Linked DNA regions of Homo sapiens: region 1 is linked to region 2. The links come from fine-mapping of genetic effects on gene expression. A gene starts in region 2. The other region holds a variant in brackets. All regions are shown on one strand. Distances are from middle to middle. Region 1 overlaps ABCA5 (ATP binding cassette subfamily A member 5). Region 2 holds the start of ABCA5 (ATP binding cassette subfamily A member 5).

Region 1 (4,403 bases), 74 kb before region 2:
ATACAGAGAGAGATATATAAATTATCTATCTACAGATACATATATTTCATATATATGAAAAAATATACATATATATTCACACACAGAGATATATATATATATGGTCTATGAATGAAAAGATGATTTTTCACTTAATCCTTAATATAATAACTTTTTATAACCTTTGCTCTATAAAGAAATATAACCACATTCTTTAAAATTTTACCTTTCCTGACGGCTTGCATTTGGGAAAATATACTGAATTTCTCTTTGAAGGCGGTCTACTTCTAGGTTTTCTATCCAGTCCTTCAATTTAATTTCCAAAAAGTAGCCTTTTCCAAATTTACTCTTTAGATGTTGTACTGTTCCGATACATCTGAAGTAATTTTTTAAAAGAAAGCTCAGATATAAAATGACAGCTTCAAAGAATAATCTCTCACACATATAACTACATTTTAAAAAAATATACCTTTATATTTAGAGAAAAATTACAAAGAAAATACAGCATCCCCATACACTCTTTATCCGGTTTCAGTTTCCCTAATCTTATCATCTTATATTACCATGGTAAATTCCTCACAACTGAGACACCGACATTGGTACATTCCTTGTCACTGAACTCCATACTTTATTTAGATTTCACCAATTTTCTATTAGTGTCCTTTGTTTATTCCAGGTTCTATCCAGGATACCGTAGTGTTCTTGGCTGTCACGTCACCTTAGTCTCTAACTGTGGGTGACAGTTTCTTACTCTTTCTGTCTTTTTCATGATTTTGACAGTTTTGAGAAGTACTGGTCAGGTGTGTGTTAGAAGGTCCCTCAATTTGGGTTAGTCTGATATTTTTCTCATGACTACACTTGGGTTATGGGTTTTGGAGAGAATATTACACAGCTGTAGTACTTTTTCCATCATATCATATCAGTGAATACATGATATCTGCACAACATCGTTTAGTTAAGGTAGTATTTGCCAGCTTTCTCAACTGTAAAGTTACTATTTTTCTCCTTCTGTCGTTCATTTTTTACAAGAAACTGGCTAAGTCCCGTCCAAACTTGGGGGATAGGAGATTAAGCCTCCTCCCTTGAAGTGGGTATTATCTACATATATTATTATTTGGAATTGTTCTGTAAGGAAGATGTACCTCTTCTCTGACACATTTCTTTACTCAATTATTTATTTATGTAAGTAGAAACTCATATGTTTATTTCATATTTGTGTTACATAATTAATCCAATATATAACAATTTTTTGAAATAACAAGTACTATGCCTAAAAATAATATTCCAAGTTATTGAAATATTAAGTGAATTCAAATTCAAAGTAGACAGCCATATTTTTAAAAAACTCAACATACTTCCAAGTCAATCTATCAAAAGCTAACTCAAAAACTAAAATATTTAACATTTAAATTACTAACTATTGCCATGTTTTTGAAATGATGACTTTCAAAATCCAACCCCCAACCTCTTCCCCTGAATGGCACGCTATTTAGACATCAACCTTAACTGCCCAGACACCATGATAGCTACTCGATCACAGACAGCCTCTGCCTCCTCCATATAGTGAGTGGTCAGAATAGCAGCCCGCTTTCTGTTTTTAAATGCAGTTCGAATTGCTCGCCTATAAAACATAAATAAAACAAAAAGAGAGGAACACATCTGTTTGTTAAAAAAAAATGGGTTTTTAAAAATCCAACCGGTTGGTTAATTAAGTTAATTAAAACTTACCAAATATCAATTGCTATGGCTATTACATCCTGCCCAACTATGATTTTTTTTTTTTTGAGACGGAGTCTCGCTCTGTCCCCCAGGCTGGAGAGAAGTGGCCCGATCTCGGCTCACTGCAAGCTCCACCTCCCAGGTTCACACCATTCTCCTACCTCAGCCTCCTGAGTAGCTGGGACTACAGGTGCCTGCCACCACACCCGGCTAATTTTTTTTTGTATTTTTAATAGAGACGGGGTTTCACCGTGTTAGCCAGGATGGTCTCGATCTCCTGACCTCGTGGTC[T/C]GCTGCCTCAGCCTCCCAAAGTGCTGGGATTACAGGCGTGAGCCACTGCGCCAGGCCATGACTTTTATATTCTAATTTATTTTCCCTTCATTTTGAAAGCTTGTCAAATGGAAAAAAAAAATCTATGATTTCAAATGTTAATATGGGCTAAAAGTATGACAACAAATAAATTTTAAAATTGATGCCTTTTCATGTTATAACCAAAACAGGCTTTGAATCATAAGAAAACCGTAACATGCATCCAAACCAAACCTTACATTTTATAGACATGGAAGTTGAGGCTTAAAGAGTTGTTCAAGGCCAGGCACTGTGCCTCACACCTGTAATCCCAGCAGTTTGGGAGGCCGAAGGGGGCGGATCACCTGAGGTCTGGAGTTCGGGACCAGCCTGGCCAACATGGTGAAACCCTGTCTCTACCAAAAATACAAAAAATTAGCCGGGCTTGGTGGCTCTTGCCTGTAGTCCCAGGTACTTGGAAGGCTGAGGCAGGAGAATCGCTTCAGCCTGGGAAGCAGAGGTTGCAGTAAGCCAAGACGGCACCACTGCACTCCAGCTTGGTCAACAGAACAAGACTCTGACTCAAAAAAAAAAAAAAAAAAAGAGTTGTTCAACTAATTAGTACTTTACAGGCACTGCATAATGACATTTCAGTCAATGATGAAACACATTTCCAACAGTGATTCCATAAGATTATAATACTTTTATAATGTATCTTTTCTGTGTTTAGATACATCTAGATACACAAATACCATTGTGTTACAACTGCCTACAGTATTCAGTGCAGTGACATGCTCTACAGATTTATAGCCTAGGAGTAATAGGCTATACCATATAGTCTAGGTGTGTAGTAGGCTATAACCACCCAGAGATTTATATAAGTACACTCTATTATGTTTGCACAACGACAACATCACCTTTCTCAGAATGTATCTCTGTCATTAGGCAATGCATGACTGTCCTAGAAAGAGTCTCAACATAAATTTAAGACACTATTATTATGGAAAAGATCATTTGTATGCTAAATGACTAGAAAAAAACTTAAAAACTATTCAGAACACTAGAACTCTTTATCTTAATAATGACTCATGCTTATTTCTGTTTCGGAATATGTAAAATATTATGAACACTTCATGAAAAATATGCAAAGTTTTAAAAGCTTAAGGAAATCTCTAAATCTATTTAATTTTTAATTACTAGTGTATCGTTTGAATAGGATTTAAAATCAAGATGTACATATAACTAACATTAAACTATTATAATAAAAGAAACTGTTCTATTCTAAAGTATCATGTACTGTGTCACAAGTACCATACTCACCACATGTGCTGTTTGGCTTTGGGATCCATACCTGTAGATGGTTCATCTAGCAAAGTAATCTGAGGATTCCCTAGCATACTTAGAGCAAAACACAACTACATGGAAAGAAAAAGATGGGTGGGAAATTAACAAAGGTTCACTATAAGGAATCTATCAAGACAATATCAGGTACTAAACTATCAATAAAAATACAGGCATTATTTGGTGTTTAATGAAAGTACCTTTCGTTTGATTCCTGCAGGTAGTTTCTTTACAGTCTTCTGAAGATGTTCTTTTAAATCAAGTGCATGTGTTATTCTGCAAAATGAACAATACAAAATGAGAATACCATGATATATATAAACACAAATACCAACTGGGTGTGATCCCTGATGTTGTTTTCTCTAGAATAGTTACTTAGTCGAAGCTTATTATAAGTAGGTAAGGGCAAAAGTCTCCAATTTACATCATTTTAAATAAATTAATATCTTGATAAAATGGTTCACTTTGAATTAAAATAAGTTTCATGATATCTATAGGTATATTTATCCTGTAACTAGAAATTAAAAAATGACCTTTTTATAACTATCATAATTTACAGCTATCAGTATATTTTCATATATCATAAAGAATATATGAAAAAGTAATAAACATTTTCTATAAAAATCATTGTCCACAGAAATGCTTGTTATGAAATTTTAAAAATATGAAATGCAAACCTTTCCTCTAAGTAACAAAAGGAATCTAAAGACAATTATTTTACCGACTTATGACTTCTTTCATGTCACTTGCACTCATTCCTTTGACAGCTCCATAAATTTCAAAATGTTCCTGCAATGTAGTATCTGGCCACAAAGGGTTTATCTGAGGACAGTAACCCATACACTTCAGTGAATCATCATCTTCACTTGTCTCTGAAGAATAATCTCCTAAAAATACCTATAGAAACACAAACCAATTTTTATTATTTTGCTTAATTTACACTGTGAAGGAAGTGGCAAGTACATTAATTAAAACCCCTTCCTACAGCCAGACTAATATCAAGTCAGATTTGTACTCCTTTATTGTCATTATTATTATTATCACTAAGTAACTGAGACTACAAACATGTGCCACCA
Region 2 (4,403 bases):
TCCAAAGCTTCCATCTGTAGGATCACCCTCAGATTATGACCTTGAATCCTACTTTACTGAGAAAACTGAAGCAATTAAAAGAGATTTCCAAAATCCACCACAAAGTAATGTTATACATTTCAACAATGTGCCATTTCAGCCTAAACTGAAGACTGATTTCATTACAACTCTGAAACACAAGAAATTAAATGCAATCTGGTATTAGCTACACTTTTAAACTAAGATATTTTTGGAATGAGAAATTAGGAACATATCTGGCACATGAAACAAACTCCTGCCTAGCTACATCATTTGCTTCTCAATCAATGAAATAAAAGCACTACAAAATATGCCTTTTAGCTTAAAAAGGGATAAATTATAAATGCTCTCATCTTCTTTATTGCTTTAAAATTTACTGTAAGGTGGTGCAATAATAAAACAAAATGCAGTCAGGTGCAGTGGCTCACGTGGCAATCCCAGTGGGAGGAAGGCTTGAGCCCAAGAGTTCAAGATCAACCTGGGCAACATAGAGAGACACTGTCTCTACCAAAAAAAAAAAAAAAAAAATAGCCAGGCGTAGGGGCACACAACTGTGGTCCCAGCTACTTGGGAGGCTGAGGTGGGAGGATCACTTGAGCCTGCGAAGTCAAGGCTGCAGTGAGCCAAGATCCTGCCACTGCACTTCATCCTGGGTGACAGAATGAGACCCTGTCTCAAAAAAAAAAAAATGCTAGTTGTCAATATAATTTAACCTAAATTTTATCACAGTGTTTCTTGCTGAGGGAGAAAATAACAATGCAATGGTACACAGAGGACAAGTCATCCAATAAATTTTCTTATGCATAATAGGTCCTTAAAAGCTTGCCCTTAAAACTATTTTTAATCCAACTAATTTACATACTAGAAAAGTTATGACTTAGTACAATATCATAAAATTCTTTTATGCAATCACCCTCTCAACTAAACTCAAGGACAGAGATTATAAATTGTATTCATATCGGTACTCTTGGCACATAGTATGGTATCTGGAATGTAAAAGACATGCAACAAACCAGCCTGGGCAATATAGCAAGACTTCGTCTCTGAAAAACAAATAAAAAATTACCTGGGCGCAGTGACACACGCCTGTAGCCCCAGCTATTCAGCAGGGTCCCTAGAGTCCAGACGTTCAAGGCTGCAGTGAACTTTGATCGCACCACTGCACTCTAGCCCGAGACGCTGTCTCTTTAAAAATAAAAGACATGCAATACACATGGAATGTACTAATAAATTTGCTCTTATAGTGAATGTAAGATTTCCCTACACTAAATCTGTTTGAAAGGAAATATACTCAAACAGCACATATGCAAAGATTAACGCCTCTTTAGTTTGATTTTAACACAAATACCCACAAAGCCCTAACTGCCCTAATAATGTTCCCTACTATGGAGTCTTCCCTAAAACACATACAATATTGCTCTCCCGGCAAACACAAAATATACTAAATAAAGCACCAGAATTAGGGTCTGGCAGCCCGGGTTGGAATCTCAACTCCATCCTTTTACTAGCTGAGACCTTAATAAGTTACTTAACCTCTTTGAGGCCCATTCTCCACACCTGCCCAACTGGAATAACCCCCTCCAATCCTACAGGGTTGCTGTCAGAATGAAAAGAGCTAATACCGAGCCTGGCTTAAAGCTGTAGTCCAGCAAATACTCCTCTTCCCTTAGATTCCTTCAGAACGCCCTTGTAGAAAGTAAACGTGGTTATTATCTTCATTATTTTCGGACTTATTTATTTAAAACGTAAATCGAAGCCTGAGGAGCCCAGGGGAAAACCTCCTTCAGCTTAATAGCTCCAGCCTGCCCAGCTTTCCGATCCAATTAAGTATTTCCATGCCTGGAGCTCCTATTCGTGTTTTAGGATCAGGGAATTTCCCTCCCAAACTGTGTCATGAGATCTGCGCATTTTCTTCTCACTGAAACTCCTTTTAACACGCAAGGTAATGATCCGCGCGTAACCTCGCAGGGAAGAGCAAGCGCTCATTACCCAGCTGTTCAGACGGAAATTTACATCAATATTTGTTTTCCTTCTTTCCCTGAGGTTGCTGAGGGTGGAACGACAGCGTCCAGGCAAAGGCAGTGTCCCGAAGTCCCACGGCCGGACCCGGTCCCAGGGGAGCCTCGCGGAGCCCCCGCCGCAGGGCCCCGACCCCCTCACGTCCGCATCCTGGGCGCTCCCACCGCATCCCCGAGGCTGGCAACCCGCGCTTCCCGGGAGCTGAGGGAGGTCTGTTTCCCTCAGCTCGCCGCCTCTGCCCGCTTCCGAGCCCGCTTCACCCCACACCTCAGACGCCGAACTCCCCTTCTCTCCCCGCCGTCCCTCGCTGGCCAGCCCCTCCTCGTCCCCTCAACTCCCCCAGGGACGGCTGTCCCAGGCTAGCCTCAAGCGCCGCCGCCGCCCGCGACGCCCGCCTCACCTCAGGGCCCGAGCCGCAGAGCTGTCAGGCCTGGACGCGCTCAGTCTGTTGACTCAGTGCGGGTGACCCAGCTGGGATCTGTGCGAGGGCGCGGCCGCGCGCACCCGCGCGCTCCTGGCGCAGGCAGAGCTGGCGGCGCCGAAGTCGCGCCCCGCCTCCTGCAGAGCGCACCTGAGGGCGGGGCTCCTAGAAAGCGCCGCTCCGCGTACGGGCGCGCTTCAGACGCTCGGCCCCGCGCGTCCCGGCGCACGCAGGCAAGCAGCGCGCCCGGAAGAGGAGAGCGGCTGAGGGTGGGGCGAGCGGTGGCGCGCCGCTGCCCAGGGCCCCTGAGCCACTAGAGTCGGGCCTCGTGGCTCTTCCCCAGGGCCTCCCACGCCTGGGTTCTGCGGGGATCTCGCCACGCTCTTTCTGGAGGCACGGGCAAAAACCACGGCCTCGTGTCTCAGTGGTAAACCTGCCGCCTCTTAGCGGGTGACCTTGGCCCACGGCCCTCTCCTCATCTGCCTCGCCCAGTCACGTCTCCTCTTAAGCATCCTTGCCGTCTGTCTCCTGGCATTTGGATGGGCCTCTCTGAACGCGTTTTGAGTCCTCTGCAGCCCCGCTTCCTCCCGCCGCGGCATCTGGAGTGCTGTGGCCCCGTTTCCGTAACTCTTGCCTCCCCTCCCCAGCCTCCTCATTGGCCCTCACACCCCGACCTGGGAGGTCCTCCCACTGAGGGTGCTTGTAGTTCGCGGAGTGTCCTCATCAAAGACTGGGAATGCGGCAGATGCTGAATTTTCCAAACGGCCTGAGACACATGACATCTGTGAGAGACTGGATACTGCACTTACTTTGCTAAAAATATAATCTAGTGTTTTGAGCTTCATTACTCAAAGTGACCTAAATGGGGTCAAAAGTTATTAACACTAACATTACGTATTTTCCTCTCCACATTTCTGTATAGTCACATTCCCTTGCACAAAGACTTTTTTTTTATTCTGTCAATCCTGTGTACATCATGTTTTTTTTTTTTACTTGTCTTTGTGTTATCTGCTTCTCGAATTTAAACCAGGTCTCCCCAACATGCACTCTGCTTTCTAAATTCTTAGGGGAAAAACAAACAAACAAGGAATCAAGTTTTACTTATGGAATATGAATTAAATAGAAAATTCAAAGAGGTTCGTCAGAATCCTTGATGATTAAAACAGCGGTCCCCAACCTTTTGGGCACCAGGGACCAGTTTCATGGAAGACAGTTTTTTCTGGGGGAGGGAGGATGGTTTGGGGATGATTCAAGCACATTATATTTACTGTGCACTTTATTTCTACTGTTACTACACTGTAATATGTAATGAAATAATTATACAACTCACCATAATGTAGAATCAGTGGGAGCCATGAGCTTGTTTTCTTGCAACTAGACAGTCTCATCTGGGGGTGATGGGAGACAGTGACAGATCATCAGGCATTAGATTCTCATAAGGAGCACGCAACCTAAATCCCTCACATGCGCAGTTCACAATAGGGTTCTCGCTCCTATCACAATCTAATGCCACTGCTGATCTGACAGGAAACGGAGTTCAGGCCCTAATGCCAGCCATGGGGGGCCCCTGTAAATACAGATAAAGCTGCACTCACTTGCCCTCCGCTCACCTCCTGCTGTGCTGCTTGGTTCCTCGCAGGCCACAGATCCCGGTAGCAGTCTCTGGCCTGGGGATTGGGGACCCCTGGATTAAAAGATCTAGCAATGGGGATGGGGGAAAGGGAGATAAGTATATTCAAAAAACTACACCAGGAAACTAAAGAAGGCATGTAATGAAAACTATCCCTGATATATTCTGTCTCTTTTGGAAACATCTAGAACATTTTAGTTACAAATTCTCAATGGCCTAGGATTTGGGGCCAAGTAAAGAAATATACATGAAAGATAAACTTGGTTAACATGTTACTGAACCATACTTTCACCCCAACACTTCTCACTAGTAGCC

The links. PIP is the estimated chance that this variant, and not a neighbour inherited with it, causes the effect.
Region 1: its variant is the best candidate, but not a certain one, in a credible set for the expression of ABCA5 in whole blood (INTERVAL, PIP 0.59).

The regions. Positions count from the first base shown.
Region 1 is chr17:69,250,267-69,254,669 of GRCh38, forward strand. ABCA5 (ATP binding cassette subfamily A member 5) reads right to left here. Exons shown (of 39, transcript NM_172232.4): 32 at 4,049-4,224; 33 at 3,528-3,603; 34 at 3,307-3,401; 35 at 1,481-1,600; 36 at 206-355. Among named protein-coding and RNA genes, the nearest start is that of PRO1804, 17 kb to the left of the region's middle. The variant T/C (reference allele first, on the strand shown) is at 1,990.
Region 2 is chr17:69,324,615-69,329,017 of GRCh38, forward strand. It overlaps ABCA5 (ATP binding cassette subfamily A member 5), which reads right to left and starts at 2,519. Exons shown (of 39, transcript NM_172232.4): 1 at 2,438-2,519. RefSeq lists silencers at 2,206-2,295, 2,426-2,805 and an enhancer at 2,886-3,025.